3 linked regions of the Homo sapiens genome follow. The protein of the gene in region 1 interacts with the protein of each later gene in a pairwise test. Each region holds a gene or a part of one and is shown in the gene's direction. Other genes may lie near its edges. The genes, in order: MAP2K3, CCND2 and KDELR2.

Region 1 (3,650 bases):
TGTGCCCAGTGGGCAGGGCTGAGATAAGGCCCTGGAGTCCAGCCTCCAGGCCTGGGTCTGTCCTGCTCTGCTCCCCTGCAGGGCTGGTGGGCCTCCTTCCCCCTTTGAAGGCCTAACGGCCTGGCTTGGAGAGAGGGGGCTCCCGGCATGGGTGATGGCAGAGGCTGGCACCCTTGTGGGCCAGGGCCTGATGGCTCATGGGAGTGCAGGGGACATTGATGTCAAGGGATAGGCCAGACGCCTCACCTTCTCTCCATTCTAGGAAAATCCAAGAGGAAGAAGGATCTACGGATATCCTGCATGTCCAAGCCACCCGCACCCAACCCCACGTGAGTCTGCCTCAGTTTCTCCCTGGCTCACCCTGGAGAGGCTTCCCGAACAGGGCTCAATGGAAGGAGTGAGAGGCAGGTGGGGCCAGCCCTGCTTTACCTCGTCCTGTCCTGGGCAGCCCCTGCTGTGCATACAGCCAGGTGACGGCTGCTGGGGGTTCATGCAGCACCATTTGCTCTGCTCTGCTCACTTCTCACCCTGTCTTGGAGGCTCGATGAGGCCGTGCCCAGCTCAGTGTAGATGCTCAGCAGCCAGTGAGAGGAGGTGGCCGGAGAAGGCGCCTCCGGGGCAGGAGGCACCTCGTCCCCACGCCAGGCCCCACACTGGCCCATCTACTGCTGCACTTGGGGAAGGGTGTGGTTCTCTCTGAAGCTCACGGAGTCTTCTTTCTCCACAGACCCCCCCGGAACCTGGACTCCCGGACCTTCATCACCATTGGAGACAGAGTAGGTGCCAGCCGCCACCCCTGCAGGGCCTCTCACTTCACCTGACGAGCGGGTAGAGCTGACCCTGCAGGGCCACTTTGGGGGGAGGTGACTGAGGGGTCAGAGAGGGTCAGGCTCTGGAGAAGAGCCTCGTCCTGCGCTGCTGGCTGTGTGGCCCTGGGCCACCCACTCTTTGACCCTCCTGGTGGGAATGAGGACCATCGGCTGCCTGACTGGAGCTTGGCGAGCCCAGAGCTGGTAGGAAGGTTTCTGAGCTGAGAGCAAGGCCCTGCACCTCATCCTAGCCCTAGGGGAGAGTATTGAACATGCAGGCTCCTAGGCCGCCCTGGACCCGCTGGATCACTCCCTCAGGCCAGCACCTGGGCAACCTGCATTTTATGCTTCCAGAAGCCTCGGAAGGGCACTAGCCATTCAGAATCCTGGCTCAGGGACCGTGCTATGCCCCGTTCCTCCCAACAGAAACCCTACTCCCAGGCCAGGTGCAGTGGCTCACACCTGTAATCCCCACACTTTGGGAGGCCGTGGCAGGAGGATCACTTGAGCCTCGGAGCTCGGGACCAGGCCTGGGCAACATGGCGAAACCCTGTCTGTACAAAAATACAGAAAATTAGTCAGCGTGGTGGTGCGTGCCTGTGGCCCCAGCTACTTGAGAGTATGAGGTAGGAGGATTGCTTGAACCCAGGAGGTGGATGTTGCAGTGAGCCATGATCGTACCACTGCCCTCCAGCTTGGGTGACGGAGTGAGACCCCGTTTCAAAAAAAAAAAAAAAAAAGAGCTGGGCACGGTGGCTCACGCCTGTAAGCCCAGCACTTTGGGAGGCTGAGGCGGGTAGATCACCTGAGGTCAGGAGTTCAAGACCAGCCTAGCTAACGTGGTGAAACCCTGTCTCTACTAAAATACAAAAATTAGCCCGGTGTGGTGGCAGGCGCCTATAATCCCAGCTATTCAGGAGGCTGAGACAGGAGAATCGCTTGAACCCAGGAGGTGGAGGTTGCAGTGAGCCAAGATTACCCCATTGCATTCCAGCCTGGGTGACGAGAGTGACACTCTGTCTAAAAAAAATAAACCCCATTCCCTAGGCCTGTCCTTGACGATACTCCCTCCAGGCTGTCGCACTCCCTGACACTCACCATCTGCTGTCCTGTTCATCTACTTGCTTACTCCTTTTTGTGTCCCTCCCAAGAGAGGGAAACATCTGTGAAGGCAATACTTTTGTTTTGTTGTCACTGTGTCCCCAGTGCCTAAAACACATTGTGGATGCTTGGTAAACAGTTTCTGAATGAGTGACTCATTCTAGCCAGCTGAGTGGGGTCGGGAAAAGAGGGACAGGGCACCTCTTTCTCAGAGCTGTACCTGCTGGCGGGGCATTTTGTCTCAGTCACACTCCATAGCAGCCTTGGGGTGTTGGCACTGTGCCTGTTTTATAGAGGGCATCGTGAGGCTCAGAGAGGTTAAGTGACTTGCTGAGGGTCACACAGCAGGGAGCGGTGGATATGAGGTTTGAGCCCAGATCTAATCAGCTGGTCCTCTTCATGCTGCCCAGGTATCTCCACTGGGCATGGGGTGAGGACTGGCTTCCAGCTTGCTGGCCACTGACTCTCTTTTCCATCCTTCAAGAACTTTGAGGTGGAGGCTGATGACTTGGTGACCATCTCAGAACTGGGCCGTGGAGCCTATGGGGTGGTAGAGAAGGTGCGGCACGCCCAGAGCGGCACCATCATGGCCGTGAAGGTGAGCAGGGCCTGGAGGCAGCTGGGAGGGCTCCCTGGAGGAGGCGGGCTGAGCTCTGCCATGGGGCCCTGCCTATCCCTCTCAGTGATCAGTACCGAGGCTAGGCTTTTTGGGGCACACTGGGCAGTGGCCCCCTGAGCTCCTGGCCCTCCTGTCATGAGTGTGGGTGTTGGCCTCTGCCACGGCAACCTCTGAATGGCAGTCCTTCCCTGCAGCGGATCCGGGCCACCGTGAACTCACAGGAGCAGAAGCGGCTGCTCATGGACCTGGACATCAACATGCGCACGGTCGACTGTTTCTACACTGTCACCTTCTACGGGGCACTATTCAGAGAGGTGCGTCCTTGCATGATGCAGCTGGGGATCTCCACCTCCCACCCATCAGTCGCCTGCAACCCACTGTCACTCAGTCCCTCCAGTACGCCAGGTGCTGGGGACACCTGGCATACTGGCAGGAGGCTCCCCCGTCTCTTGGCTGTTACTGTCCTGCTCAGTGCCTCAGTTTCCTTGTCAGTCAAATGAGGCCGGTGGTTGTGGGTGCCTCCTAAAGTTGACACGGAAGGTAAACGACATGGCCTGGGGCCTGGCATTCAGCTGCACTCAGTTCTGTCTGTGTGACCATTCGCATCCCCATGGCATACAGGGCGTGGGAATGGCATATGGGGCGTGGGGTGCCCAAGCAGGCAACGGCCATGGAGATATGAGATCTGGATTCTGGGTTCTAGGTTTGTGGACAGGATGGGGTGTGTGCTGAGAGAGTGACTGAGGCTGGAAGAGTGGAGCTGCCTTCCGCCAAGCCGGGTGGGTGTGGGTGAGCAGGGAGGCCGGGAGCCTAGGCGATGCTGGGCTCATACTGGTCACTTGCCCCTCAAAGAGCTGTGGCAGGGTCAGGGCATCTGAGTCCAGCCATCGGGCAAGGTCAGGGCTGCTTCACCTGTCCTCACTCGTCACTCATGAAGAGCTCAGCATCCTCTGTGCCAGCCCCTAGCCGATGGGGCCCCTGCAGCCTGCGGGTGCCCCCTGCGCATCTCCCAACCTTCCTGTCAGGAGGGTCCTCAGGAGTTCACTGGGGAAGAGGGAGCAGGTCCTTGCAGGCAGGGAGCCATCTGCCAGGGTCAGCTGGCATGAGGGTGTCTGTCGGTC
Region 2 (3,650 bases), on another chromosome or scaffold:
TGGTCCTTGAGGGAAGAACTTGGGGAAGAGCCGAACAGGGATGAGGCAGGTGAGCCCCATGTGATTTATCGTCATTCATTCAGCTCAACAGGTCGGACAGGGTAAGGGTAAGGGATGTAACCAGGAGATGCCACAGGAACGTCTGAGAGGTGTTAGCAAGTCCCAGAGGCCAGCGCCCGACTCCATTTCAGCCTCGTTCAGGGTGGCACGGAGACTCCTGCTGCTGCGTCACGTCTGTCATGTTCAGCACTCTTCCCAGACACACAGTCTTGACTAAAGATTGTCAGGATCTTGACACACGCTTCATTAGTCTTGACTAAATGCGAATCTATACCTCATTTCAAAGAAATCTGAATTCTTTAGGTTCCAGGACCAGTTTATTGTTATACATAATCACGATCATTTATTGAGCTCCACTTAGCACTGCACATATATCAGTATCATCTCAGTTGCCCTTTACTCTGATTATTTTGTGGGGAAACTGAGATCAGAAAAGTTAAATAACTTAGGTGCCACCTGCAAGTATAGTGGGTGGGCAGCAGATACCACCCTTCCTCATTTCATTGTTCCAGGTGATATTTCGTCTCTGCCTTTGGCCTTTAGTCTGTGGTTGTTCCTAATCTTAGTTTTCATTGAAAGCTGTAGTTTGAAATGTGGGATAGATGAGAGATAGGAAAGGAAAATTTAGGGGTATGGAAATTTTGTTCCTTAGTGGTTAGTTCCAGCTTTATTTTGTTTATTTATATGTTTGTTTTTAAAGATCGGGAGCTTGCTGTGTTGTCCAGGCTGGTATCGAACTCCTGGTTTCAGCTTCCCGCCTCAGCCTCCCAGAGTGCTGGGATTACAGGCATGAGCCAATATGCCTGGCCAGCTGTGTTTTAGATCTTTGGGAAATAAAGAGAATGCTTTTGGGCTTGGCAAAATAGAAACCTCTGGGTGGGGAGAATTGCACAGTAAAAGAAACAAAAGGGAAGTTTATATTAAACTATGAAAAGACACAGGGAGGTTCAATTTAACATATTTGCCTTATGTATGTGCTTCTTAAGAGAGTGCACAAAGGCACCTTTGCAGAGGAGAGAGGCTAGAAAATGCCCGTTAGAAGCAAGTCTACGGTTTGCACCCTCTTACTAGCACCAGCAACGGTCCCTGTCTAGTGATACCCATGACTTGTCATTGCATTGCATGTCATCTGCCTAAGAGAAGCTCCTGCCTGGGGCAGACACACTGTCAATTACCCCTACAATATAGACTGATACTAAAGCAAGGCTGCATATTCTTGCTTATTCCCAAATTGGATGGCTCAAGGTTCCAGAATGTTGTAGACATTCTGCATTATATCTTTATGAGAGTTAAGGAAATGGTAAAGAAGCAGAAAAAGTTGGGGATTTTTTTTTTTAAGTATTTACAGTGAGGCGCGGTGGCTCATGCCTGTAATCCCAGCACTTTGGGAGGCCGATGCGGGCGGATCACAAGGTCAGGAGTTCGAGGCCAGCCTGGCCAATATGGTGAAACCCTGTCTGTACTAAAAATACAAAAATTAGCCAGGCGCGGTGGCGGGTGCCTGTAGTCCCAGCTACTTGGGAGGCTGAGGCAGGAGAATCGCTTGAACCCGGAAGGTGGAGGTTGCAGTGAGCCGAGATTGTGCCAGTGCACTCCAGCCTGGGGGACAGAGTGAGAAAAAGTATTTACAGTTTATGTGAGGGTCAGTACGTTGGTTCATTGGCTTCCTTCTTATCTAGTTCTCGGGCTGAGTTTGCTAATGTCATAGCACTTCTAGTAGCCTTCCCCTTTTCTCTGCCACTTCCCAGCTTCCCCAGGCAGAAAGCATCTGGTCGGCCCCTTGATTACCAGGCATCCATAAGTGACCATCATTTAGGCCAGTGCTTCTCAGAATGCCAATCACCTGGGCTCCACTAAAAGGCAGGTTCTGAATAGCTCGGCCTGGGTTGACTGAGATTCTGCGGTTCCAACAAGCTCGCAGGTGATGCTGATGCTGCCAGCCCATGGACCCCACCTGGAGTAGTGAGGTTCCTTGGCACTTTAAGAACATCCCTCCTTTACTTCACATTTATTTCTACTGGAAACTAGCACAGACTTATGCAAGCTAAATTACGCATGTTTTCTCCGTAGGATGCTCTATGTCCTGTTCCTCTTACTAACAACTCTGGTCTGGACCATTGTTCTAGGATTGTCTCAAAGCTTGCCAGGAGCAGATTGAGGCGGTGCTCCTCAATAGCCTGCAGCAGTACCGTCAGGACCAACGTGACGGATCCAAGTCGGAGGATGAACTGGACCAAGCCAGCACCCCTACAGACGTGCGGGATATCGACCTGTGAGGATGCCAGTTGGGCCGAAAGAGAGAGACGCGTCCATAATCTGGTCTCTTCTTCTTTCTGGTTGTTTTTGTTCTTTGTGTTTTAGGGTGAAACTTAAAAAAAAAATTCTGCCCCCACCTAGATCATATTTAAAGATCTTTTAGAAGTGAGAGAAAAAGGTCCTACGAAAACGGAATAATAAAAAGCATTTGGTGCCTATTTGAAGTACAGCATAAGGGAATCCCTTGTATATGCGAACAGTTATTGTTTGATTATGTAAAAGTAATAGTAAAATGCTTACAGGAAAACCTGCAGAGTAGTTAGAGAATATGTATGCCTGCAATATGGGAACAAATTAGAGGAGACTTTTTTTTTTCATGTTATGAGCTAGCACATACACCCCCTTGTAGTATAATTTCAAGGAACTGTGTACGCCATTTATGGCATGATTAGATTGCAAAGCAATGAACTCAAGAAGGAATTGAAATAAGGAGGGACATGATGGGGAAGGAGTACAAAACAATCTCTCAACATGATTGAACCATTTGGGATGGAGAAGCACCTTTGCTCTCAGCCACCTGTTACTAAGTCAGGAGTGTAGTTGGATCTCTACATTAATGTCCTCTTGCTGTCTACAGTAGCTGCTACCTAAAAAAAGATGTTTTATTTTGCCAGTTGGACACAGGTGATTGGCTCCTGGGTTTCATGTTCTGTGACATCCTGCTTCTTCTTCCAAATGCAGTTCATTGCAGACACCACCATATTGCTATCTAATGGGGAAATGTAGCTATGGGCCATAACCAAAACTCACATGAAACGGAGGCAGATGGAGACCAAGGGTGGGATCCAGAATGGAGTCTTTTCTGTTATTGTATTTAAAAGGGTAATGTGGCCTTGGCATTTCTTCTTAGAAAAAAACTAATTTTTGGTGCTGATTGGCATGTCTGGTTCACAGTTTAGCATTGTTATAAACCATTCCATTCGAAAAGCACTTTGAAAAATTGTTCCCGAGCGATAGATGGGATGGTTTATGCAAGTCATGCTGAATACTCCTCCCCTCTTCTCTTTTGCCCCCTCCCTTCCTGCCCCCAGTCTGGGTTACTCTTCGCTTCTGGTATCTGGCGTTCTTTGGTACACAGTTCTGGTGTTCCTACCAGGACTCAAGAGACACCCCTTCCTGCTGACATTCCCATCACAACATTCCTCAGACAAGCCTGTAAACTAAAATCTGTTACCATTCTGATGGCACAGAAGGATCTTAATTCCCATCTCTATACTTCTCCTTTGGACATGGAAAGAAAAGTTATTGCTGGTGCAAAGATAGATGGCTGAACA
Region 3 (3,432 bases), on another chromosome or scaffold:
TTACAAGCATGAGCCACTGTGCCCAGCCTAATTTTTGTATTTTTATTAGAGATGGTGTTTCACCATGTTGGCTAGGCTGGTCTTGAACTCCTGACCTCAGGAGATCCGCCCACCTCTGCCTCCCACAGTGCCGGAAGTATAGGCGTGAGCTACCTCACCCTGCCATCCTTTGTGTTTTTTTTTTTTTTTATCTTTTTAAAGAGACAGGGTCTCACTCTGTTACTCAGGCTGCAAGAATGCAGTGGTGTGATCCTTCCTCACTGCAGTCCCAAACTCCTGGGCTCAAGTGATCCTCCCTGCTCATCCTCCTGAGTAGCTGGGACTACAGGTGCATGCCACCACACCTGGTTCTTTTTAAAATTTTTTTTTTATAGAGATGGGGTCGCTCTCACTTTTTTTGCCCAGGCTGGTCTTGAACTCCTAGCTTCAAGGGATCCTCCCACCCTGGCCTGCCAAAGTACTGGGATTACAGGCATGAGCCACTGCATCCGGCCTTTATGTTATAGTACCCAGAATTTCATAGGCCTCCCTACATAAGCTATATTTTACTATATATTGATTAGGGTGAAAGTCATAATAACAAAAAGCCACTATGAATTTAGTGGCACTTTCAATCAAATTTGTATTTTTAAAATACAATTGCTTATTTCCTATACCTTACTATGTAGAATCTTGTGTGTGGGAGACTTCTAGGAATGGGAAGAAGGAAGCTAAGTTTGTCAATATCAGTAACCTTTTGTTTTCTTTTCTTCTCTTTGAAATTCTAGTACTCAAGGGAAAGAAGCTCAGTTTGCCAGCATAAGTGCCAAAGACCATCACCAGCATCTGTCCTTCAGGGTGCTCGGACAGAATTCTTACCACAGCAAAGGCATAAGATGCTTGATACGGAAAATCAGAAACTTAACTCTTTTGTTGCAGATAGTCATCAGTGGCTCTGTAAAAACGCAGAGGAAAAGAGCCAGAAGGTTTCTGTTTAATGCATCTTGCCTTATCTTTTTTTATTACTGTGTACAAAGATTTTTTTACACAAAGAAACTTAATGCTGTATTAATAAATTCAGTGTGTAGCTTCAATTGGGATAGTTCCAAAAGTGAAGATTTTGTGAGGAATAAGTGCAAATTTTTTTTTTATTTTAAAAAATTCTTTGAAACTCTTAAGTCTTTGTGTCTGCAATGAAATTGTACTCCTTGACAGTTGATAGATTATATATTCTTCCATCCCTCAAACTTGCATTCCACTATATTTATTTTTTGGCAAAAGATGAGCTGTATTTGTTTGAAATCTGAGACACTATGTTCAATTGGATGTATCTGTTCAAATTTATTCCCACGTGACGTGGAAGTCCTTCGTTGGATGTCACAACACTACATTTAAGGTTGGTAAGGATGACTTGGAGGTCCATGGTTTTCATTACCAACATTTTAAGATTCTGAATGTCGATGGAGTCTCACTGAAGAGTCACCAAAGGTGCCTGCCCTCCTCCCCTGCTGGGAAGTGTCAGTTGGAGACTGTCCCAAGGGTGCTGAAGAATCCAGTGGCAGGGGTTCTGGCTGCTTTCCATCTGAGTGTGGGATGGGAGGGGTGTTCATGATCATTTGGATATAGCAATCTACTCTGAGAAATGGAACACAAGGAGTTACCTATCACTTTCACTTATAATTCCAAAAGATGACTACAACCATGTCCATGCTCAGATTCAAACAGTTTTCCATATCACTTTTGGGTGGTAAGATGATTTAATTACAGTTTTTTTTTTAATTGGCAGCACCACTAACCATTCCTTACATTCTTTTTTGTATGTGTGGTTTTCTTTTTATTTAACCCGCAGCCGACATCGTAGTTTCTTGTTTTGTTTTGTTTTACAGAGCTGTTGCATGACTTATGTTACCATCCTAAAAAACACTATATTAAACATGGAATAAATTGTCTTTTTATGAATTAGGCTTTTTGAACATCCTGTGTTGGGATTTTTTTGTTTTTCAATTGGCAACAAAAGCTCTGTAGGGCTGCAGACATTTAAAGTTCACATAATCATCTGTAAGACATTATGTATTTTGTGGAAATACTAGAATTTTTTTCCTGATTTTGCCATTATATGGATTTGCTATTTTTTGATTAATGCAAAAGTATATGACTTTGTTTTTTATGTGATACACCATAAATATTAAAGTGTTGAATACTAACAGTGCTGACTACAAGAAGGATGTAGTATTTTGGCTTTCTGCATTACAACGTCTTCTGGAGGAAGGGAGCAGGATGGGTTTCATTTGTATCTAGTGTGTGTCTTAACATCTTTCTAAATCGGCAGTGTAACTGCATAGTTTAACTTCCTGTCTGTCTCCCTCATTTTACTCTTCCCTCCTTGTCTTATGTTTTGGCTTTTGTGTATCAGAGCATCTTTCTTTGCAGCATCCTAGTCTTGCTTCAGTTTCTGTGGTCTCTTTTCATCCTGCTTGAAGATTCGGAGTGTGGAAGGAGGCTAGGAAGTCTGGTGCAGTAGGTGAGCAGACCTCTTGCTGCCCAGCCCAGGGTGGGTGGGGCGCACACCTGTCTTTGTGCATGCAAATCTGATACACCTGGCGCATCCTCTGGAGAGCACAACGCATGGAAAGGTCTGGAAGCTCTGTGTAGCCATTCCTTCTGCAGTCATCCTACCCAAGTAAAAGTAACCTTGGCTATGTTACCACCGTTTTGGTCACCCAGGAGGACATCTTAGCAAGGGTGCCTGCGAGGGAGTGTGGGACTGGGCCTCATCCTCGCCGGCGTTGGAAACCAAGGCCTTGTATGCCACGCCTTATGAAGCACTGTTTCACAGTTACTTTCACTTCCCGAATAAAGGTTACCAGGTAATTAATATTTTTATTGAGGTGTTTGTGTGTTTTTCAATGTAAGCATCATGAGAAATAAAGCAAAGTTCAGATATTTGCCCAGTAATGGATATAGGAAAAGCTGCTTTCCAGCCAGGCCTGGTGGCTCATGCCTATAATCACAGTACTTTGGGAGGCTAAGGCAGGAGGATCACTTAAGGCCAGGAGTTTCAGACCAGCCTGGGCAACCTAGCAAGACCACATCTCATTTAAAAAACTAGTAAAAATGAAAACTTAAAAATAATAAAGGCTTCTATCCATTGGCTCCTTAACAGAGAGAGACCAATCTATTCCCCTGTCCAGTTCAATCACAAAGAAACTTTGAAGAAGTTTCCCTGTTGCCTTATGCCCTGGCTAAGAGAAGAGCAGGTGGAGAAGTGGTTTTAATGGAGATCATAGTGATTTATGGGAACCCTTAAGTAAGAAAAGCACATGCTTTGGGCCCAGGCATGTGTTGAGGCTTGGTTCCCTCACTTGTACTCCCTGGCCCTGGACTTCACGTGAGCCTCGTTGCCTCCAGTTACATAGGTAAACTGCCAGGGATTTCTGTGTGGTTTAAATGAGC

Evidence for each region.
Region 2: the proteins of MAP2K3 (region 1) and CCND2 come close enough for resonance energy transfer, tested with the Homo sapiens proteins (one large-scale study listed by BioGRID).
Region 3: the proteins of MAP2K3 (region 1) and KDELR2 come close enough for resonance energy transfer, tested with the Homo sapiens proteins (one large-scale study listed by BioGRID).

What each region holds. Positions count from the first base shown.
Region 1 is NC_000017.11:21,298,151-21,301,800, forward strand, and holds part of MAP2K3 (dual specificity mitogen-activated protein kinase kinase 3), read left to right. Parts: intron 1-262; coding exon 263-329; intron 330-727; coding exon 728-776; intron 777-2,394; coding exon 2,395-2,508; intron 2,509-2,723; coding exon 2,724-2,843; intron 2,844-3,650. UniProt on the Homo sapiens protein: Dual specificity kinase. Is activated by cytokines and environmental stress in vivo. Catalyzes the concomitant phosphorylation of a threonine and a tyrosine residue in the MAP kinase p38.
Region 2 is NC_000012.12:4,297,674-4,301,323, forward strand, and holds part of CCND2 (G1/S-specific cyclin-D2), read left to right. Parts: intron 1-2,186; coding exon 2,187-2,336; 3' UTR 2,337-3,650. UniProt on the Homo sapiens protein: Regulatory component of the cyclin D2-CDK4 (DC) complex that phosphorylates and inhibits members of the retinoblastoma (RB) protein family including RB1 and regulates the cell-cycle during G(1)/S transition.
Region 3 is NC_000007.14:6,460,511-6,463,942, reverse strand, and holds the end of KDELR2 (ER lumen protein-retaining receptor 2), read left to right. Parts: intron 1-767; coding exon 768-802; coding exon of another isoform or gene 803-977; 3' UTR 978-2,854; downstream 2,855-3,432. UniProt on the Homo sapiens protein: Membrane receptor that binds the K-D-E-L sequence motif in the C-terminal part of endoplasmic reticulum resident proteins and maintains their localization in that compartment by participating to their vesicle-mediated recycling back from the Golgi.